Regions from separate parts of the Homo sapiens genome. Here all the other regions are linked to region 1. Evidence: fine-mapped expression QTL. A gene starts in region 1. Each other region holds a variant in brackets. All regions are shown on one strand. Distances are from middle to middle. Region 1 holds the start of GBE1 (1,4-alpha-glucan branching enzyme 1). Region 2 has its middle 73 kb from the start of LINC02008. Region 3 has its middle 43 kb from the start of GBE1.

Region 1 (8,189 bases):
TGTGGGCAGCCTCAGTAGATAGATGGAATCCATGGGATGGATGAGAATGTCTAGGGAGAAAATATACAATAGAAATACATAAATGATCCCAGGGAAGAACCTTGAAAATCTCTTACATTAAATGGTCAAAAAGAGGCTGAGAAAATGAAAGAAAAGCAAGATTATGGCTTCAAAGAGCCAAGAAATAGTCCAACATGTACAATGCTAGAGATAAAGAAAAGAGGGATCCCTAAATTATCATGAAGTTGTCTGTGAACTGGTTGAGAACAGTTTCAGTAAAGAAAGATTAATCACAGTTGCAGCACTTACTTATGCCATATATGCTCAAGCCCATCACTTAGTTTCTTCATCTGCAAAACAGGAAAAATGCCCACCGTCTGTCTACCTCATGGTTTTGTTATGAGGATTACATTAAATACCGGATCTGAAAGTACTTTATAAACATTAAACAGAGGGTATAAAGTAGTATTATTAAATTGTGTTGTTTTGACAATGTTCACAAATGCCAATTCTCTGTTTCACCCACATGGCAAGCTGATGGGCACTGGCCAATGTAACGTATCAGCAGAATGGACTCACTGCTAGGCAAAAGCTGTAAGAAATAGTGCATAGTTCAACATGCTTCTCTTTGCACTGTGACCACCTCTACAGAAGCATGTTTCAAAACAAATCCTTCATAAGCCTAGATTTTTGAGTGACTGCCATGAGGAGGGCCCTCTGGCTGACTCATGCTGACATGTAATATGGGAACAATTAAATGTTGTTTTAAAGCACTAAGATTTTGGAATTATAACAACTAATTGTAGTGTAACAACAAGTAAATAACTAAATAAAAGGTAGAAAAATCAAGTGGAAAATGCTATTTTGGGAGGTCATCAATGAGACAACATGGAGGTGGTCAGTCATGCTAATAATGTACTAATTTTTATTTTATAGCAGAGTAACTCATTAATCCTCTACACTTGATTCAAAATTCTCACAGGTACAGAAGGTGAAAAGAACAACTAATGAAGGTGATATGGTTTGGTTGTGTCCCCACTCAGATCTCATCTTGAATTCCCACGTGTTGTGGGAGGGACCTGATGGGAGGTAACTGAATCATGGGGGCAGGTCTTTCCCACGCTGTTCTCCTGATAGTAAGTAAGTCTCACGAGACCTGATGGTTTTAAAAAGGGGAGTTTCCCTGCACAAGCTCTCTTCTCTTGTCTGCCACCATGTGAGACATGACTTTCACCTTCTGCCATGATTGCGAGGCATCCTCAGCCACTTGGAACTGTAAGTCCAATAAACCTCTTCCTTTTGTAAATTGCCCAGTCTCAGGTATGTCTTTATCAGCAGCATGAAAACGGACTAATACAGAAGGGGAAAAGGCCAAGGTAAAGAAGGGAAGGAACATCCAAAACATCCTAAGGGAACATCCAAAAAATTTCAAATCAAAAGATATCTGTTGGGGAAGGATGAGACAGTCCATCAAAGAGAAATTTCCTTCTTCATCACCTTAATTATATACTGTTGTTTGTACCTCAAATTTTCTTCACTCCTTAGTAAGCATACTTTGCACCTAAGTGTTTGACTGGTTATGTATTTGTGTTAGGCCAAAGACACACAGTCCAAATGGATTATCAGAAATAAATGGAAAATTGGACAAGGAACTAAGACCAGATTGTATGAAGGAAAAATGTTTTATTCTTCAAGTGTTAACAATAGAAGTTACCACTAACAAATGCCAAATTACTATTTGATATGCCTAAATGGAACATGTATGCTAGCAAATGGCCATTACTCAGAACCAAGGACAAAAGTAAAATCCGGGTCAGAGTGAGGCATGAGGGCCCACTGGACGAGACTTTTCACCAAGCACACTGGATTCTCTTCCCTTCTTTATCTTGGCCTTTGTTCCCTTCATTAGTTTTGGCAAACCATGAAAGAAGATTATAAATGCTTCAATCCCAGTGGAGTTGGAAATAAAGTACATGAAAGAAACACTTAATAAAGAATGTTAATCTGTTTGTGTCATTTAAAAAAAAAAGGAAGGGGGTGTAGATAAAACATTTCCACAACTCTTCTTTAATAAATATCTTAAGTGTCCTTTTACAAAGCACACAGGTAAATTAATGTCATGGTTACAAGGACATCAAAAAAAAAATCTAACCACTACCTTTAATCACTATCTTTTGTTCTAAATTTTTTCTGACTATTTCTAAATCAAATCCAACCTTAAACCTATGACGATTATGCACTAAGTTTCTCTGAAAGCATATACTGTAAATTCTGAAAACAATTTCACAAGGCTGCTCCTCATATGGTTTATATAAGAGCATAATCATCTGATTAAGTGAGGGACAGCTCAAGGTGATTATTTTACAGAGGCCTCATTCACTACTATATACAAGCTCAAGAATGAAACTTCACATCCCTTACAATCCCTAGAGCAGTGTTTTATTTATAGGAGTTCCTCAATAAACACTTGCTGATTTGAATGCATTTAATACCTGAAAATGCTAGGACACAAACAATTTGCTGGGCTTTTTTCAAACTCCAAATCAACCCATTTTCATTACTCTCAACGCTCCTTCATGCCAGTTAACTAGTTGGATGTTTTCCATCACTCGAAAAATTGGCCATGTATATTCTGTTGCCAGGATAGTTTCCATTCTGCAGTGTCTCTCCTAAAAGGGGAGAAACTATTAAATCAAAATGGGGTAACCTCACAAGTATAACTATTACAACTTGTATAATAGCTCTTTTACTTCAAACAACAACGACAACAGAAAAAGACCTGTACCTTTTTAGTGGAACTTATGAATAGAATTATTAGCCCAGTAACTAAAGTTGTATGGTACACAATGGTAGAAGACAAGCTAAAACGACATTGGCCTGTAAAAGTTGCTTTCCTGACCTTTCTCCCTCTTCAAGATGGTTAAAGTCACACACGGACAAATGTTGATGTACATTTAACTTCTCAATGTTGATCCAAGGGGAGAAAAAATTGATCAATGTAGGTGTAATCTTCCCCTAAATGAGGAATATTAGCAAGGAAAAAACAAAAGGATATAGTGTCTGCCTGAAGGAATCCTCTTAGATATAAAATCACAACATTTGCTATGAAATAAACTAGAAAGTTTTAAATGCGTAATTACACGTGCCAGGAGTTATGCCCACGTTACTCCACAGGCCCACGCTAGTGGGTGCCAAAGTCAGAAAACCTGCAGCGGCGGTGAGTCACTCCCCAGCAGCACTCTGGGGAATAAGTGTTGGAGCCACAGCACGTACCCTATGGCGCAAGACCGCTGATTAGAACAGAGGGGAAAGGGGATGAGGAAAGAAGTTTCTTCAGCGCCCGCTCCGGGCACCAGCGCTGTCAAACCTGCCACTACGGAAGCCACAGAACCCGGTTACCCGAGTCACCCCGAGCCCCGCCCACTCAGGTTCCTCCCCGCCTGGGGCGGGGTTGGCGCGCGAGGGCCGAGGGGCGGCCCGTGTCCCGAGACGGCTCCTGGGAGGCGGGCTGCCTGTCTAAGTGGGGGTGGTGGGATTCCGGCGGTACCTGCGCTGGAAGTCCACGGCGTAGGGCTTCAAGTACGGGTCGATCTCCAGGAGTCTGGCCAGTTCGGGCACGTCAGCCAGGGCGGCATTGAGCGCCGCCTCGTAGTCCTCGGGCCGAGCCGCGGGAGTCATCGGAGCCGCCATATTCCGCCGCAGTCCAAGTAGCCGAGGCCCGAGAGGTCGAGTGGGGCCTGAGCGGGCGCTGGAGCTCTAGCTGGGACGCGGCGGCTAGGGCGGAGCCGGAGGGCGCCTAGGCGTGTCGAGGCAAGCCGAGGCGAGCCGCGGCGGTCCGGGGCCCTTTATAGCCGGGACGGAAGGCCTCCTGCCCTTTCTCCCCCCGCCAGCGGGGAGGAGCGGATCCCGGGGTGATGCCGGGACGCACGTCCGGAGCGGGTAGGAGGCACCGAGGCCTCTCCGCCCACTCACGCGGCTGGCACCTGGAGGCCGCAGGGACCTGCCCTTTCCTCCCCTTAACGGTTTTTTCCTGCTGGCGGAGGTCATTCTAGGAGGTGGGTCCCAAGCTGACCTCGCTCAGCCTTGGCCTTCCTCACCCTGACATATTCTTGGCTTTTCTTTACCCACTTAAGCACCCACTGACAGCGACCCCTTCAAATTGGACATAAGGGGTTTTTTTGGAAAGGACCGTATTTCTCAAAGTTCTGAGACTTTTGAGGGGCAGTATTTCAAACATATCATGTAAATTCACAGAGAGGGGAACAGTCAAGTGTAGCTAGAGTACTACTGCTGAAAATGTTAATACCTCTTACAACCAGGACTCTCCTAAGTTTGCCAGGTCACGTGAATTTAAAATTAACCAAGACACAGAATCCTGGAATACCGTTGGAATTCTGCTGTTCTGGTACTCTTTTCTGCATTACCAACAGCTAAGAATTTTAGCCATGGGAAGAACTTTTCTCATTCTCCGTAAGGCCAAAAAGGAAAAGGCATTTGCCTGTGTTTATAATTGTTAACAAGCTTTTCAACGATTAAACTACCTTTGATAACACAAATGATATCATTGAATTGGAACTCCACTCTGCCACTTACAGTGATAAGGCAAGAAACCTCTCTTCCTCTTGGCTTGGGAAGCTCCCACTTGGAATTCCCTTCTTTTATTGCCATTAACTGACTAGCTTCTATTTCAATAATTGCTTTTTAGGAATACAGAGTTGGACTCCAAGAGAGATGGACCCACCAAACCCAGGAGGGTCCAAGCTGCTTTACACCTAGAAACTAGAGAGGATTGAGGATATTTTTCTTGTTAAAACCCAGAACTGGAGGATCCTAGGGGTTATGGAGGAGAAACAGTATTAATCAGCCGTGGGCCTTGAATTTTAAAATATTTCAAAGGAAAGTTTTTATAAGGGGTTTCATAGACTTGAAAGATAAGTGGATATGAAGACAGACCTCAGTGTGAAAAAGTGAAGGACTTGAACGACTTTAAGACGTGCCTTGTTTTCCATAAAGATGACAAAAAACTGCTGCAGACATTTGTAAAATATAAAGCACTAAAAAAGGAAGAAAATTAAAAAAAAATAAAAACCCGAAGCAGGACAACTATTAATAACAGACCCACAGATCTACATCTCCAAGCCTAAACTTTTTTCAGAAACCCAGGCTTGTATCACTGCCTGTCTACTGAGATTTCCATTTAGCTGGCTAGGAGACCTAAACAAACTGTCTGCAAAACGTGACCTAGAATCCGTCTTCTCATCCTTCCTGCTGTCACTCTTATGCAGGCCACTGTTTTCCTTCACTTGGACCAGAATGTAGCTCTCTAACTGACTTCCCCTCTTCTACTCTTTCTCACCTCTACTCCATTCTCTGTACCAGTGTTTCTCACACTTTAATGTGCATATGAATCACCTAGGGATCTTAATTGAGTTCCGATGTGGTGCTTCAGATTGCATTTTTAACAAGCTCAGAAGTGATTCTGATGCTGGTGGTTGGGGACACAGTTTGGTGAGACTCTACACTGAGTAAATCAGACGATGTCATTTAGCAACTTAAATAGCATAGTATTTCACTTAGGGTAAAATAGAAACAGCTTATCATTCTCTAACAAGGCTTGTATAATCTGGACCCTGACTACCTTTCCAGCCACTTTTCTCATCATTTTCCAGTTTTACTATGCTCTAGTCACACTGACTTTCCTGGAACTCAGTGAATTTGTTGTATAATAGCCTCTAAGATTATTTGCTTGCTGTTCTCTCTGTTGGAAATTTTCAGGGAGCTGAGCTCTACTTGCTTAATTTTTTCCAAGCCTTCATTCCAGCCTCAGCAAAAATGTCACCTCATACCTGAGAAACTTCTGATTATAGACTCCTCAGTGTCTTCTGTATAACTTCAATCTCTTCTATGCAACAGTTAACAGAATCTAGGTGTTTGTTTTTCTCCTATTTATTGACCTTTCCCTTTAGAACCTAAGCTCCCCACGAGCACGATCCTAGCGTACATATCTGCCTACCTAGGTGGTTCACCATTGAGCACATATTTATTGAAGTCCCATGTGCCGGCCATTTTCCCACGTACTGTGGATAAATGATAAGACAAGTCCCAGTTGTCATACTCTATTGGGGGTAGGAGGGAGAGGAGACACAATTACCAGTGAAATACATAAAATAATACAAAACAATGTCAGATAGTGGTAAGTGCATTGTCGAGAATTAAAACTGAGCAAATATCTGTGTTAGTTCCGGTCGTCAAGAAAGGCCGTTCAGAACTGACATTTAAGCTGAAGTGTGATGACAAGAAGAAATGAGCCATGAGAGGAAGAGCATTCCAGAATGGCAGAGTTCGTGCAATGGAGGAATTGAATTGGTCTTTTAAAAAAAAAAAAAAATCTAGCATACCCGGTGTGTAATGAGGAGTGGCAGGAATTGTGGTGCAAGAGCTAGGCAGCTGTTCGTTCATATAGGCCCTTTAATGTCCATTTAAGGGATGCTATTGGAGAGTTTTCAGCAGAACACTGATATGATATGGTTTAATTATTAAAATATTCTATGTGGCAAATGAATTATAAGGATACAAGAATGGCAATAGGGGTGCCATTCTTGTGGGAGACAAGGGAGACAATTAGGAGGTGATTAACATTGCCTAGGCATGAAATGATGATGGCTTGGTCTGGGGTAGCAGATAAAATGATGAAATAAAGATTTGGGATGCATGATATAATGAATGCCTAAACTATTATGAAGTCATTTAGTGTCTGTATTAGTTACCTAGGGCTGTAGTGATTAAGTACCACACACTAGGTAATTTAAGCAACAAAAATTTGTCACCTTACCCTAGTTCTAGGGGCTAAAAATCAAGGTGTCCACAGGTTTGGTTCTTTCTGGGGGCTCTGAAGGAGAATTATTCCATGCCTCTCTCCTAGCTTCTGGTGATGGCCAGCAATCTTTGGCATTTCTTGGCTTATAGTTGCATCATTTGGATCTCTGCCTCCATTGTGACATGGCATTTTCCTGTGTCTCTGTCTCTTCACATAGTGTTCTTTTTATTAGGTCACCAGCCTTATTGAATGAAGGACACACCCTATTTCAGTATGACCTCATCTTAACTAATTATATCTGCAATTATTATATTTCCAAATAAGGTCATATTCTGAGGTAATGTTAGGTTAAGACTTCAGTGTATCTTTTTGTGGAGAAATACAATTCAACCCATAACATTTTTGACACACCAAAACAGAGAAAATATTTGAGAAATAGAGTTTATAAGATTTGGTGACTGATTGGATATGAAAGTGAAAAGGGAATTAAAGATTGAACTTCTGAGCCTGGGGGAATTCTGTCTAGCAAAAATAAAGAAGGCCTTGAAAGAGGGAGAACTAAGTTCAAGGTGTCAGCTCCTGGATACCCAAGTCAATATGGCAGCTGGAAATGTAATTCTGGTGCCTAATAGATCATGTAGGAATGAAGATAACAATTAGAGAATGATCCATATGCGTTTACTAGCTAACGGTGGCAAATAGGAGATCCTCAATAAATATTTTGAAACCTTTCTTTCTTGGTATTTGAGTCTCATGTCACATGTTTGCTTTTCAATAGTTTGCATTACAAAGCCAAAGAGTTACTGATAATGTGCTACATCACAGTTGAACCTTAAAAACATAGCAAGTGAAAGAAACCACTCACAAAAGACCACATATTATATGATTCCATGTATATGGAATGTTCAGAATATGCAAATCTACAGAGAAAGAAAGCAGATTTTTAGCTTCCTAGGGCTGGAGGGCAGGGGAAACGAAGAGTGAGTGCAAGTGGATATGCGATTTCTTCTTGGTACACATTTTCTAAAATTAGTTGTGGTTATGGTTTCATGGCTCTGTGGATATACTAAAAACTAATTGTACACTTTAAATGGATGAATTGTATGGTATGTGAATTATGTCTCAAAGCTATTTTTAAAAAGATTCTGAAGGATAAAATAATACTAAATATGCTTTTTAAAAGGCAAATGATTTATACCAACTAAAGATAAACTAGACTATATAAATATACCTTTTAAAATTACATATCCCCCTCGTTGAAAATCATTAGCAATGAAAAAGAAAATCAGAGAGCAGAAAGAAAAAAGAAGTAACTTTTTTTTTTTTTGAGACAGGGTCTAGCACTGTCCCCCGGGCTGGAGTGCAATGGCGT
Region 2 (8,189 bases), 150 kb after region 1:
CTCCAGACAGTTTGAACTCTCTTTTGAACTGGCTCTCCGAGGTCTTTACAGATGCGTCTTGATAAGAGGGGCACTCCCATGGTTACTTCCTCCTTTCCCGACCTGTTTTGTTGTTTATATACTTCATCCACCCCTTCAAGTTTCCCTGTCTGAAATTGGCCCCATCTGCCTCTTGAAAGATGCTGACCTTCCTGACAGGTGGAGCTATTAAATGTGTCTGGCTGGGCACAGTGGCTCACGCCTGTAATCCCAGCATTTTGGGAGGCCAAGGCAGGCAGATCACCTGAGGTCAGGAGTTCGAGACCAACCTGGCCAATATGGTGAAACCCCATCTCTACTAAAATACAAAAAATTAGCCAGGCATGGTGGCGTGTGCCTGTAGTCCCAGCTAGTCGGCTGAGGCATGAGTATCACTTGAAGCCAGGAGGCAGAGGTTGCAGTGAGCCAAGATCGTGCCACTGCACTCCAGCCTGAGCAACAGAGTGAGACTCCGTCTCAAAAAAACAAAACAAAACAAAACAAAAAAAGCAAAGCAAAACAAAACAAAAAGTCTGTATCTTTCCTGAGTCCCACAGTCTCAATGGTGCTCCCAGCATTGGGTAAGTCATCCTATATGTTTGCAAATTTGCAGTCTCCAGGCTCCAGTTCCCTGAAGGAAAGTTAAAGTGAATCCTTCAATTTTATGATCCTTCCCCCACCCCCCACCTCCCACTGGTGTTTTCACTGTTACACAAACTCCTAAGAAAGCTCATCTTAGAAATACAAACATTTTAAAATAATAAATGTAATTGTGTATATTTAAGGTATACAATATGATGTTATGGAATACATATACCATAGATAGTAAAATGGCTGCTATAGTGACTCAATTTAACATGTCCATTTTCTCATATAGTTACCTAATTTTTTTTGTTTTTGTGTCAAGAGCAGCTAAAATCTATTCATTTAGCAAGAATACCAAATACAGTATAATGTTATTAACAATAGCCCTCAAGTTGTATATTAGATCTGTAGACTTGTTCATCCTACGTATCTAAACTGTTTTTCCTATTTTACAGGTAGCATCATTTAAATCTAAATTGAGGAAAGAACATTCCTTCTGTTAGTAAAGCTAAGTGCTGCCAGTGAGTCGACAGCATTGTACACTGGAGCCCTTGGGGTCTGGCATCAGCCCAGAGACCTTAGTAGCTTTTAATGGTTGCATTCTCTGTTGAATGGGGAATGGCATGAGTCTTAATTCCTGGGATTCAGATTTTCCTCTGATGCAAAGGAAAGGGGTTGAAATTCCTGTCACCACATCTATATGGGAGTTCCTTTAAAGTCAAGCCAAAAGCTCATTTAATTAAAAAAAATTGCTTTTATTTCAACATAAAAGGTTTTTGACCTTAGGCAATTTATATTACTCCAAACGTAGTTTTGTTATTTAGCAACTGGCAATTATATAAGCTAGTCATTCTCCAAATATTGGGAAGCATTTAATATACAGCATTTTGTTTGTACCTCTAACTTAATCTTCACCTCATTCTACCTTGTGCTGTAATTACATAATTAGTCATGTATTAAGGATCTTTAATGAGACAATTTCTGCTAAGCATGGTGAGGGAAATATGTGATCTTCCCACCGTCCGGGAAGCATGTGCATACGGATGTATTTTTCTCTCTTCCACTAGGTGGCGACATCCTTGAAATGGGGGCCTTACTAATTATTGTATCTCCTATAACATGTAGCACAAAACCTTGTTCATCATCAATATCCAAAATAATTCAGAGATTAGCCACAAGAACGGAGGATGAAAAAATCATTTTCACAAAATTTGCAAGCCTATTACTGAAGTACATATCATCATACACTGACCTTTCTCTCAAAATGATCAGAGAATAGTTCAGATCTTTGACTCCTCTAGTCCAATCATAGACCTTGACATTTTAACCAGGAACAAAAATTAGTGTGGCTTTTTTATCATGGCTTGTTGCTTGTAATCAAGTTTCAGTCATTGCTTCTGGTCAATCAGAATTATCACCTCCCAGGACCTATAGGTGAGGGTTATTTTTTTTCAAAAGAAGTTCTCATAATTTCTTCAGTGTGTTTGTCTGCTTTTCTTTGTCTGGTATGATACTTTCCAGGCTGTGGATGCTTAACAAATGTTAAATGATAATTCTTTATTGACCTGACTGGGTTTTGGGAGCTCACAAAATTTTCAGGGAAGTGTTTTAAATGTTTTGTAATCTTTAGGATTTTAAAATAGAATTATGATGACCTTTCCAAAGCAAGAAAGCAGGAAGTTGCTGTAAGCTTAAGGCCAAGCAGTTAAAACTAATATGATTGGTCTCTTTTGGCTCATTAATTGCATCTAAGTGGATACAGAGAGCGGAAGCTTTTGTTAAATAACTGACACAGTTAATTCCAATTCGTAATATGTTCTGGGAATGGTATTATAATAAAACACAAAATGGCCTCCATGGTTTAAAATGGAGTGCAAAGTCAAGCAAATGCTGCATGGAGAGCCAAACTAATAACTCAGATTCTCCCCATATCCTCAGTGTCAGTGTAGATGCCAATTATGACGCTTATAAGCTTACGGTGGCTTCATTACTGCCAAGACCATAGGAAAGGAGATCCTGTCAGTAGCCCTATACCACAGGTATTTTCTATTGCTGCTGTAAAACAAAATGCCAAAAATGTAGTGACTTAAAACAACACAAATTTGTTATCCTACAGTTCTGGAAGTCAGAAGTCCCAAAGGGATCTTACTGGGCTAAAGTCAAAGTGTCAGTAGAGCTGTATTTCTTCTGGAGGCTCTAGGAAAGAATCTGTTTCCTTGCCTTTTCCAGTTTTTAGAGGCTTCTTACACTCTTCGGCTAATGGTATGATTCCTCCATCTCTAAGGTCAGCAGTATAGTATTTTCAAATCTGTCTCCTACTCTGACATCCCTGCCTCCTTCTTGTAGGGACCCTTATGACTGCCTTTGGCCCGACTGGATAATCTTCTGCTCTCAATATTCCTAACTTAAATTACATCTGCAGAGGCAAGGTTTCTTTTGCCATGTAAAGCAACATATTCACAGGTTTCAAGGATTAGAGCTTGGACATCTTTGATGGTGGGTGGGGGAAGAGGTCATTATTTTGCTTGTCATGTATTAAAAATAAAATTTCAAAGTATTTTAAAGAATAATTTTATATTATGATAATTTTCCAAGATGTAAGAGCAGATTATTGTTTCAATATAAAAATGATGAAATTAAAAATTGAGCAAACATGATGATCTGTGTTGTGGAAAAACAGGGTTTCCAATTGTCCTGGATTTTAATCATCTCAGTGCTGTGTATTTACTGTGTATATTTTCTGAGATAATGAGCTATAATGCCTGCCTCATAAGATTCTTTGGAAAGCCTTATGCTGTTTTTTGCATTGACACCTAGCATGGTAATTCTTCATTAACATTAAGGGAGAACTGAAGTTTTAACCATTAATTCTCAGTCAATATATTGTCTGATAAGTACTTGAGTTGGTCAGTAAGTGACATCCATACTAGCATTTGGGATGGCCTTGGTGTGGCCCTGAGAAGTAGGATGCACAAATGTTCTATGCATACTATCTCTTATTTACTAGGATAAGATAGGCCAGTGAAAAAACAATATTCCATTTGACTAACTCCACTACTTGCTGGAAAGCTGTAGTTTCAAAGCCTTGATCAGAAAGAAATGCAAAGCTGAATGTTTAATATCAGAGAGTATCAGGTCTATGATCTCACAGGTTAGTGACTGAACATTAATCATGTTAATATCTTCAATTAAATAGAT[T/C]CTGTTGAAAAAGTAGAATGAATGAGAGCCAATATGGTGTTTTAGTCAGTTAATAAATAGATTGTTGTTATATCCAGGACAAAATGGATGAAAATTGAATTCCACATGATAAAATATTATTAGTTTTAACCTTAAGATAGATTATCAAGTACTTGCTGTCAAAAATTCTTTTACATCTAATTTTTCCTCTCTTGGTTTTGCCTGTATAAATAAATAGATTCCATTTCCTCTGTATTCCATTAGAATTTATCTAAAGTCTGAAGTCCTGATCTAATACTGTAATTTTATCTGTCATTTGATGTCGAGTTATTAAAATTTGTTTGAAAATACAGTATGCACACTTTGGATGGCATCCTTATGTATCCTTTTAATCTAGAAATGTATTTTTTAATATTTTGGTTGGTCATAATTTGTCAAGATAAAATGGGCTATGATTAGAGAAACTATATGTACTACTACATTTCTAATTTTAATAATGCATAAAATCATATGTATTAATGTATTAGGAATTTGATTGAGTGCTTCAGGTAAAGGCTCATCTTATATAATACATTTTGATTTTGTTACTCCATCAGTTATATACAATTATTAATTTTTTACCATTGCATACATTTGTGTAACTGTGCCATCTAATAGCTAATAAGGTAATAAAGAAATCATTAGCCTTTCTTTGGAAAGATATCTAAGCTGGTGAACTATAAAACTCTGAGTTCGTCTAAGTGTCACTTGGAGTTCTGGGGGTTGTCTCTCTTTTGAATTCAGAAATCATAAATTGAATATCTTGATATAGTCGAGTAAGCGGGAAATGAGCACTGCTTTTGCAATTGACTCGTAGATATGATCCTAAGCAGGAGGACAAGGATGAAGAGGGTAAGAACGAATAATAAATGTGTTTGAAAATGAGATTTAACATTTAGAGTACCAAAATTTTTCTAGTACTTTAAAGAATCAGTTTCTTTTTATTTTACCCTGTTTCCTAAAGAATAGACTATATGACTAATAGATTATTTCATTCTAATCAATTATTATTCTATCTTGAAATAAAACATAAAGTCTTTAGAAATATTTCCTGCTGTAATAATATGCCCAAATAGGCTACAGTTTCCACGGATAAACCCATATTTTTCCTCAATACTTTCTTCCAATAATATTTAGTCAATATATTTTTTAAAATATTTTCAAAAATTTACATTGTTATCTTGACATTGGAGCTTAGTGATTTCAATTACAAACAAATGAAAATGGAACCAGAAGTATGTTTTACAGGGTGAAAAATTTCTTTACGACTTCAGCTATTTTTCAGGCTTAAACTTTCCTTTCATTTTTTTTCTTTAAGGATTCTGAAGAATTCCAGCTTCCCTACTGTTGTGTCTTACATAGATTCATGTTGAATATGTATTTCCCAGCATCTAGAGATGCTGATTCAGTGTAGTTGGTGACAGGTGTCTCAATGACAAAGGCAGGAGGCCTTTAAAATCTTCAGTTTGGGAGTGTCAGGATGGGTATGACATAGGCCCATGCTGACAATCTGAAATGAAGGCTCTTGGCATAATTGCTTTTCATTCAAAAGTTAAGAAAATGCAGCTGCGTCCTCTTCACCTCCAATTCCTGCAATCTCTATGCATAGAATGAAGAACTGCCTGCTTCACTGCTGAATTCTCTTCCTTCCTTCTTTAAAGAACTAAAGATCAATGAACTTAGTGCTATTCTGGTCCTTACTAAACTTGGCCTGGCTAAAATAATCAATTTAGCTAAAAAAAATTCTAATATACAGAGAAAGACTTTGTGTTCTTATTTATAAGAGACCAAATATCTCTTTCCTTCCAGTGACAGGGGCACACAGGCACTGCAGCACAACCTCAGGCAAAATAGAAAAAGAAAGGAGAAAGAAAGCACTGCCTTTCTCCAGAAATGACTCATGATATTTATTCAGATGACAGGAAGAATAAATTAGTTGAAGATTTATAGGAGCCTATTAACTCTTGTGCATGAGTTGTAGGTTAATTGAACTATAACAGTATGTTAATTCAAGAATTACTTAGAAATGCATGACCCCCACCCCCCAAAAAAATGTATGGGTAAGCACACATGTTAATCATTAAAAAAAATCCTAATTTAAGAAAAACAATAGTAGTCTGCAAGGGGTTAAAAATCAGGGTATAATCAAAATAGCGCTGTATTTCTTCCCATGGATTAATTACTTACATATTTTCTCTCCGAATTTAACTGTACACATATACAACACTTCATAATTTGGTAAGAAAGCTTTTATCATAATGACTTCCTGCACAGAACTTTGAATTGTTGAATAAAAGCTCTCTATACATGAACATCATTATAACCTTCGGGCTTCTGGATAATTTGAATTGGTTTTACAATCCACAGTTGGGTAGTGTAAAAGGAGCCTCTGACGGCCGTAGGAGCAGCCTTGACAACTGTCAGCCTACCACACACCCAGAGCAATATCTCTGAATTTTATCGCTGTCAAGAACAAATCATAGGTAAATGGATACCAATTCTGATAACGAAGCAGGCTGAAATGGTCCAAGACCTTCTTACTAAATTTAAAGGAAGGCAACATCAGAGCCAAATAACTATTGCCCAACCAACATTTTTCTTTTTGATTACACTGTGGTAAGGCAGACAGACAGGTAGGTTTACAAGTGCATTGAAGTTAGTGGTGAGCTTTCCATACAAATATATAACAAAATAAGTATCCTCATGTGGGCATTTGCAGGGTAAAACATGGGGTAATTTGAGGTATATAACTCTTTAAGTCACTGCTATTATCAACTACCTGTGGTTGGGTTAAATAACTAGCTTCTACTGAAAGAAAAGCTCTTACCTTTTGAGCGGCACATTATGTTTTGTGATACATAAATCAAAAACTCCAGTGTAATCCTTGAATGTTATTTTCAGGTGGTTCATTTCTTTCTCCCTTCTACTCTCTTTTATTTCTATTTGTGGCAAGTGGATATGATAGCTCGAGTATTAAGACCTGTGATTATGAAAAACTTGCAGATGGGACTGTTTATTTAAGTGGCATTTACAGATTTCGACTTAGTAGATCCGGAGAAGTAATATTGCACTGACCTCTGTGATTGTGAACTAAACGGCCTTTGAAAGTCCTTGAAGATTTAGTATCAGCTTTCCACTTGACAAATGTACTGTCCTGTTTATAGATGACCAAACTCTGAGTAGCTTTCATTAAAATATAATAACATCATCCAAAATGAACTAAGCCATAGGTTTAATCAGGGTTTCTGTTATGTAATTTCAGAGGGCAAGTCAACAGCTCTACATTCTCTTCAAAGTGTGGATTCCAATGGACTATGACATTTGAGGAATGCTTTTGTACCCTGTATTTTCTCAGCATACCAGCTGCAGAGTGATTAGTGAATCATTTTAGGATATTACATACTAATTGCTAAAATGATTAAGGCTCTTTCCTCTCCTATACTCAATCCCTTAACCCATCATTTTCCACTTTCACAATTTAAACACAGATTATCCAAATTTTGGTTTACTAACATGCTCATTTAGCTGAAGATCAATTTTGTTTCTGAAAGATTCGTATGGGTTTTCTTGATCTTTTGCAACTAGGATTGCAAACCACCATTCTTGGCTAAATGGATAGAGGGAGAGAGAGAAAGGAGATAGAGAGTGAGAGAGAGAGAGAGAGAGAATAACTTTGCCTTCTTGGGGCTCAGACTTGGAGCTAAACTATCTCATCAAGAACTGCACAGCGAGTGCGGTGGCTCACGCTTGTAATCCCAGCACTTTGGGAGGCCGAGGCAGGCAGATGACCTGAGGTTGGGAGTTCGAGACCAGCCTGACCAACATGGAGAAACCTCATCTCTACTAAAAATACAAAATTAGGCGGGCGTGGTGGCGCATGCTTATAATCCTAGCTACTTGAGAGGCTGAGGCAGGAAAATCCCTTGAACCTAGGAGGCAGAGGTTATGGTGAACTGAGATCATGCCATTGCACTTCTGCCTGGGCAACAAGAGTGAAAGTCCATTTCAAAAACAAAACAAAACAAAACAAAACAAAACAAAAACAGAAAAAACAAAGAAAAGAATGACACTGAAGCCTAAACCTGAAGAGATTACTGGTTTTCTCTTCCAAGGATAAACTTTATAACATCTTTACACTAAGTAACATTCCAGACAGACGGAGAGAGCAAGACAATTACATTTTTTAAAAACTATTTGAGAATCTCTTTTTTTTTTTCAAACAGTGGTTTTTACACAAAACATTCTCAGAATCTGAATATCAGTGTGTTCATACAACCCTGATAATATACTCATCTCCAGAGATAAGAAAATGCTACTGCATTCTTGAGAGCCAAGAAAAAATTCTGACTGATAAAATGGTCAAACAGGGC
Region 3 (8,189 bases), 43 kb after region 1:
AGATTTCTTAGACTCTGTCAGCCTCAGTTTCTCCCATTCAAAAATAGGGATATTCTGTTGGACAGCATTTATCTCACATGTAGACATATCAGTCTTTCCTGATGCAGACCATGACACTTACTGAAAATGGTAAGTTTCTGTCCTGCCCTCTATATGTCCTCCCAGAGCCAGCTGGCAACATTAGATCCAGTCCTTCAAGGTCTTTGGCCTTGATCCTATGTACTATGAACTCTGGTGCAAGGTAAGAGAGATCTATGAAGATGTAAGATCCAGAATTCCCAATCACCCATCTGCCCAGCCTGAGCTGTTGTGGTGATAAACTTCAGGAGCCAGGTGAATAAGTCTTACTTTAGACATAGGTTTCCTCAGAAAACAATCTGGTGAACTCTTAGGGAGTTTAAGATCTATTCTTGGACCGAATGTTGGCCAAAGGTTTCTACCTGTTTCTCCATGAATCTCTAATTTCTTTTCTTTTCTTTTTCTTTTTTTTTCTTTTTTTTTTTTTTTTTTTTGAGACAGAGTCTCACTCTGTTGCCCAGGCTGGAGTGCAGTGGTGGTCTCGGCTCACTGCAATCTCCCCCTCCCACGTTAAAGTGATTCTCGTAGCTCAGCCTCCTGAGTAGCTGGGACTACAGGTGTCCACCATCATGCCCGCTTAATTTTTGTATGTTTTTAGTAGAGATGGGGTTTCACCATGTTGGCCAGGCTGGTCTTGAACTCCTGATCTCAGGTGATCCACCTGCCTCGGCCTCCCAAAGTGCTGGGATTTAGAGTGTGAGCCACTGTGCCCAACCCTCTAATTTATTTCTTAATCCTTCAAATCTTGCTACTTCCTCCCATCTTGTTGTGGATTTTTGCAAGGGCGCTAGCTATTGAAAAGCACTTGGTTATTGACCAAAATACTTTCTTTCATTTTGCACTGGATACCCTTTGTATATTGTACTAAGTTGTTTCTATATTTCAAGCTATCACAATTTGGACCTGATCTACATACAGTTAATGAACACCATGTGGAAATCATACCCACTTTGCATAATATTTTTCCATACATAATAATAAAATTAAATGAACATTAATTCTTTTATAAAACCCCACCCACCCTTTCACTGATGAAAGGAAAATCAAGTAAACAACTTTAACGAGAAGGCAATAGTAGAATTTCTTTGTGGATTTTGTTATTTTCCTTTTTTTGTTTTGTCCAGATTTTAGCAGGACCATTGGATCGTTTGTACTCAGGTTAGTCTGCCTATTTGTGAGAGAGTATTCTTCACAAATGGGATGTAGTTATGCAAAAAGATGAGACCTGAATTTATACTTTGGCTTTAAAGTTGAAATGTTAGTTTACATTATATTTCGTAACTAGCTCAGAGAGAATTGGTGCATGCAAGTACAATGGAGCTTGGTTTCCTAATGTCAAAAAAACCTTCACTTTTCACATTCTTGTTCTTGACAGAACATATTTTCGTTTATTCATTCCACTAATAATCTATGAAATTAAGATATCTCCATCTCAAAAAAAAGAAAGAAATTAGAGATTCATGGAGAAACAGGTAGAAATCTTTGACAAAGAAATTATTTTCTGAAATCTTCATTAGAAGTTAATTCCTGAATTGATAATTGCTTTTGCATTTAAGAAAAACATAGTTTTAACTACAACAGATGCTCCCACATATATACATGAAATTCAAACAAAATTGTGAAAAAAAAATCTAGTTGAGTCTGAAAAAAAGCAAAAAGCAGCTGTTTAAAAACTGTACACCAGCACGAAGAAGAAGAAAAAGCTGTAGTATTTACGTTTGCTTCTACATATCATTGTCACCTATCAGTTGTTATCTTGAGATAATTCAGGATGAAAACTTTTGTGATTTTCTTTGCTTACAGATTGCATACCTTCTTAAGCACATTAAAGCTTCCCTGTCTCAGTTCTTTTCCTGAATTTCACAGCTGAAATTGTTAAAAGTTATTTTTTCCCTTCTACTTAGCTAAAATCTGCTTCTCCGAGCCTCTACCAATTGATGGAAGGTTAAAAAAAAAAAAAAGCCTCTACTCATTGATAGAAGGTAAAAAAAAAAAAAAAAAGTCTCTACCCATTGATAGAAGGTAAAAAAAAAAGTTCATAAATTCAGAAGTCAGTAAGACTGGGGACACAATGTTATTATCTCCAGTAATGTGATATTTTTAAGTTTTAGCTTCCTTATCTGTAAAACGGAAATAGTAGCAATTGTACTGTGCCTGAATGTGGAATGTAATAGGAGTTTTCTACATCCCAACTCATTCCCCTACTCCTTTTTTTTCCCTCCCTCCAGAAGTATCTGGTATCATTGAGGCGTCAAGATGGAAATAGTTGAATTAATGTATGTCAGCGTGTAAGTAAGCATTAAATTGCTACTATATCTAAATATACATGTTGAGGCCAGGCCCAGTGGCTCATGCCTGTGATTCCAGCAGTTTGGGAGGCTGAGGCAGGGGAATTGCTTGAGGCCAGGAGTTTGAGTCCAGCTTGGGCAACATAGCAAGACCCTGTCTCTACAAAAAAATTAAAAATGGCCAGGTGTGGTCCTTCACGCCTGTAATCCCACCACTTTTGGAGAATGAGGTAGGTGGATCACTTGAGGTCAGCAGTTCGACACCAGCCTGGCCAACATGGTGAAACCCTGTCTCCTAAAAATACAAAAATTAGCCAGGCATGGTGGCACATGCCTGTAATCCCAGCTACTCGGGAGGCTGACGCATGAGAATCGCTTGAACCTGGGAGGTGGAGGTTGCAGTGAGCCAAGATCTTAACTCTGTACTCCAGCCTGGGCAGCAGAGTGAGACTCTGTCTCAAAAATTAAAAATTAAAAAAATTTAAAAATAGCCATGCATGGTGGCATGTGCCTGTAGTTCCAGCTACTCAGGAGGCTGAGGCTGGAGGATCACTTGAGCCCAGGAAGTCAAGGCTGCAGTGAGCCATGATCATGCCACTGGACTCCAGCATAGGTGACAGAGTGAAACCTTATCTCAAAAATAAATAAATAAATAAATATGCATGTTGATTTGTGGTACATATTATAGTACATATGTTGTGAATTTAATTTAGAACTCAGTATGCTTCAAAAAGATCGTAAGAATTTTCCCTTAAATACTTCCTTGTCCTTCTGTTTCTTCTTTCTTTTTTTATAGCTACCCCTCTTAACTGTTTCTCCACTCTCTGTTCCCCATATCCAATCAGGTATCAATTCCTACTGACTCTATTCTAGTTTTGGTGCACATTTGAACCCATATTTTATTTTCCACTTCCAACTCTACCCCAGGCCCGCATTAACTCTTCCTTCCACTATAGCATTCCTTTCCCAACTAGTCTATTTGGCATGAGCTATGTCCTTTTTCATTCATTCTATAGACTCCATCTGGCTTATTCTTCCAAAGCGGAACTCTGATCAGAAAATTGCCTTGCTCAAATACTCTCAACAAGTTCACATTTCTTAGAAAATGAAGCCCAAACATCTTCTCTTGGAAATTAATACTTTTTATGACAAAGTCTACCACACTGCTTAACAAACTCTAATGCGCTGCCAATTTTGATACTTGCTGCTTTCCATCTGCACTTTCCCACTCTTGCCTCTGTGCAATGTTTTTGTCTTCGATTGTCTTTCCTTCTTTCTAGAATTTTTACCATCTTTAAATACAGATACCACCTACATATTAAGCCTCACTTGATGTCCTTAACTAAAATTGATCTTTCTCTTCTTTGTGATTCTACTGTCCATTGTGTCCATCTTGCAACATTCGTAATCTTTTGCCTAATTTATGTGAACATGTTTAATCTCCCCAACTCTATTTTAAACTTCTTGAGAACAGTCTTTCCATCTAGCACCTTAGCTATCAGAGTTTTGTACATGTAATACAGAATACTTTTTTAAAAAACTGGAAATACCATTGTGAGTTGGCAAAACAGAGTCTATTTCACAAAGGAGGACAGTCTTTGAGTTTGGGTGGAAGGAATTTAAGGAAATAATTTTCATGACAAGAGTAGGTATGATAGAAGGTAGTCATCCTGAGTGAAGATTTGTTTTGGGAGGAGAGTTAGGAAGTAAGTTTAAGTAACTTTAATAATGAAGTGTCATCGTAGAGATCTTGAAAAACAAAGAGTTTAAAAATGTATAAGATGGTGAAGCAGGAAGAACATTATGTCAGGAGACCTGGATTCCAGTCACAGTTTAATTTCTGATAGGTTATGAGACTTCAGTAATGACTTCTATGGGCCTCAGTTGATTCTGAGTAAAATTAGCAGATAAAACTCAATGATTTCCAGTCTATTCTAGCTTTAGACTCTCATGCCTATAAAGAAATAATGGGCTACTTTATGTTTTTGAGCAATTAATGGCATATAAAAGTTGTACTTAAGGAAGATAGAAAAAGATCAAAGAGGATAAAAACATTAAAAATACAAAATTTTAGCAGCTTTATTATTTTATGCAACTAAAATTAGTTGATTAATTTGGAGATGTCTAATTATATAAATAAAGTGTTACAGGTTAGAGTATCTATATCTTTTTTTCAGTTTATTGTTTACTGTTTGAATATTGAAAATTCTTACTATAGAACT[G/A]TAATAGTCTTGAGAAGTTGCAGCTGTTATGCATACCCACACTCAAGCTATTTCATACAAATAAGGTTCTAGCTTTAATTTTAAATGCCTCGAGGCAAACAGCACAGTCTTTTTCTGGCTCAAATAGATCCAATTACCTCTAATGACCCTGCTACAGTTTATTGAGTGTCTATGATCCAGGTGCTTTTGCTGAAGTCTAAAGTCATATTTTATATCATTTTGTGAGAAGTCATCGACCAAATGAATAAAAATTACTGAGACTTTCCTCCACATTACTATTTCTTCATGTAAATATTTATTGAGCTCCTACTGTGTGTAAGTGAATATGCTAGCCCCTCACAGAGAAGAGAAAAATGAACAAGACAGTCTGATCTCAGGGAGCTTATGCTTTGTTACAATAGAGCAAACATGCAAAATAGACTGAGCTTATAAAGAGCAAGAACAATCTCCTGACACACAGCAGGTACTTAATAAATGACTATTGACAAATTACACAAAAGGTAGACTATTTTAAGTACCACCAGAAGTAGGGATGGGGTGAGACAATGGGAACTCATAGTCTTGGGGTTATGAGAAAAAGTTTGTGAGGAAAGTTCTGAGTTCTTAATAGAAGTAAATGTTTGGAGGTCAGCAGGGCTGTGGATAATTGGGAAGGAAGTGTCTTATAGAGGAAACAGCCAGAAAAAAATTAAAAAGGTGGGCTAGCCTTGGACAAGTTTTAGAAACAGGGAATGGCTTAATTTGGCTGGAGGATAAGAGAATAGGGTTGATAAAGTTAGAAAGCTAAATGGCTGAAAACTACTTTCTGTAGGTAACTTGGGAGTCATTGAAGATTTTTAAGTAGAGAAGTACTAAAAAAGATCTTTGGTTTTTCTTTTAGCCATTATACTTTAATATGACTTAGGGTGATTCTTAAATAACACATTTCAACATTTAAAAATTCATGCAATAAAAACAGGCACCAAAAACAAAGACAAAATCAGAATAAAAAAACATGTCACAGCCTTTTCATTTCTCACCACTCTGGGCAGTAATGTCAAGAATCAAATGGATTATTTATAGTTCTCAGTTAGCCCTGGAGGTGGGTGCTCAGAGAAGTAGCCACACTTGGTGAGGGTGCTGAAATAGTTATAGACTTTACATTCCAGCGTATTTGAGTTTCTATTGACATTAGATCTACTATGTAACACAATTTTCTGGTAGAACATCATATAATCATGTTAGAAAATATTTTTTGTTAACATGTAAGAAAAATGTTAGATTTCTATTACTGTCTGCTCTTTGCCCTAAAGTTATGCTAGGAAAAATGTTATTTCCAATCATCAAGAGGAAAAGGTACACTATTCAAACAGTGCCGTCATTAAATAATTTTTCAAATGATGTTATCATATTCATTTGGTTTGTTCTGGGAGATATAATTTAAATGCACTCATATGTTAAGAATCCAATTAATTTTTAAATGTATGTTTAACCTAAACTGGCATAATATAAACTGGCATAAATTCTGGCTAAATTTTCAACTTTAAATTATTATTACAAGTAGATTATTTTACCTTAATTATCATGAGCTTATTCCTCAAAGTGTGCAAGTATATTTATGAAATTAAAAGTAATAAATGTCTACTATGATGTATTGCAAAAAATATTGTAGAATATTATTGTCCCCAATTCTTCATTCTTTTCTTGTTCTAGAATTGCACACCCTTTTGCAAAGTGATTTGGTATTATCTCCTTCTTACTAGGGTAGATGAAATATATTTCCGCACTTTATTGATGTTGGGCTTGGCCATGTGACCAATGTGAATGGCCAGAGAATGAGCAGGAGTTTCAATGTGCCAATGTGGTTAGGCTTGAGTTCTTGTGTTTCTGCTCCGTGAGAAAAATATGCTTGAGTAGCCTCTAGTCCCAGAGTGATGAAGACAGGTGGAACAGGTTTGAACCCAGTCCCAGGCCTGGAGTTTAGTCGAGCCTAGCCGAGTCCTGCCTGGTAAGCCCAGCTGAAATTAGAGGATCTGCAGCCACCCTACATATTTATAAATGGAAAAACAATAATGTTTGTTTTTGTAAGCCATTGATATGTTAGTGGTTGCTTATTATCCGTCATAATTGTAGCTAGAATTTATTATTACATATATTATTTTATAATATTTTGATAGCTATAGTTACCCAAATAATGGTAAGAAATAAATGAATAAAGCATTAAGACTATGGGATTTGTTATACTACATTGAATGTTAATTACATGTCCCAATATAAATGTCTCAGTAATGATGATAACATTTTGATGACTAAAAATATAGTCCTCTTGGGAAACCATTTTTTGTCTTTTGAGGCCTACAGGAAAGTTCAAAATGAAAAGATTGGGCTACATAGTTTTTATATAGAAAAACTTCAATTCATCTGAAAATTCCTACTTCTCAAACTAACATTTTTATAAATTTTCCTTTGTTATCTTAAAGCATAGCATTAAAAATTGCTTATCAAATTACATCATTTATCAGCCGTACATTGTAATCTCTTTATAATTGAGTTTTTAGTGAACATGATGCAGAGTATAAGTTACCTTTGTTCTACTGGAGACTTGTTTAAATTAGTGGCCAGAAGAAAAAATTTTGTAACTTTAAAACTATATGCCAATACGTGGCAGGAAACAGTTCCAATGTCATATGAGGATATGTTTAGGAATAACAAATCCAACTGAATAAGTTTCTCAATTTTAATGGATGGCCTACACTATTCAAATAAGCTCATCTAAAATTTTTAGCATGAATATATATATATATACATGTTAAAGTTGTGTAATTATACAGTGAATATTTCCATTTCAGATGTCAGAGACTTCTTGTCAAAAGCCAAGAACTATGAGTGAGTGGATTAAAATACTTTGTTCATAAACAAGTTGGCCTATTTTATTTGGCCTACTTTTTTAAAAAAGCAATTTCCTTTCACAGATAAGATAGCAGTTGTTGAACAATTAGCCTCATAAAATATTATTTCACAATAAGATGGGAAGAAATAAGGGATACCAAGACCATTTTCTTTCTATGAGATTAAAAACATTTTCTACATATTTGTCTATCGATGGCATAATAGACTCATTAAGTTAACGTTTCATTGTTACATAGCATCTCTAATTCAAATTTCTCAGTTTCAGAAAGAAAATCTTTTGTCAATATTTTGAATAGGTTCTAAGTGGAAGATTTTTGTTTGGTAAGATTTTCACATTAAAGTTTATGTATGATGTAGAATTGATTTAGTAAAAGCTATATTTAGTTAGCTGGTTAATTCTTGGATGGAAAAGAAAATAATTATAGCTAGATACTTCGCTTTTTAAGCATGTATTATTTTCTTGGATATTTGAACATCATAGTTACTTTGGTTTTTCTTTTTACAGGATCATAATAAGCCACTTCTCTCCATCCTCCAGTTAAGCACAAATATTTAATTTTGTAATTAATTATATATGTTTTTAAAATATAAAGCTTGCAGCACATAAGACAACATAATTAAGGACAAAGAAGACAAACTCAACTAATGAACACAGAGTTGAAAAATAGAATTCTGAAAAATTAAATGAACTCTTGCTTTGCATGTCAGTGAA

Evidence for each region. PIP is the estimated chance that this variant, and not a neighbour inherited with it, causes the effect.
Region 2: its variant is the best candidate, but not a certain one, in a credible set for the expression of GBE1 in whole blood (TOPMed, PIP 0.89).
Region 3: its variant is the best candidate, but not a certain one, in a credible set for the expression of GBE1 in whole blood (TOPMed, PIP 0.73).

What each region holds. Positions count from the first base shown.
Region 1 is chr3:81,757,828-81,766,016 of GRCh38, forward strand. GBE1 (1,4-alpha-glucan branching enzyme 1) reads right to left here and starts at 3,818. Exons shown (of 16, transcript NM_000158.4): 1 at 3,548-3,818. The coding sequence starts at 3,690. RefSeq lists silencers at 491-785, 3,367-3,446, 3,947-4,046 and enhancers at 3,097-3,266, 3,607-3,896, 3,683-4,291.
Region 2 is chr3:81,908,779-81,916,967 of GRCh38, forward strand. No RefSeq gene overlaps it. Among named protein-coding and RNA genes, the nearest start is that of LINC02008, 73 kb to the right of the region's middle. The variant T/C (reference allele first, on the strand shown) is at 3,802.
Region 3 is chr3:81,800,686-81,808,874 of GRCh38, forward strand. No RefSeq gene overlaps it. Among named protein-coding and RNA genes, the nearest start is that of GBE1, 43 kb to the left of the region's middle. The variant G/A (reference allele first, on the strand shown) is at 4,589.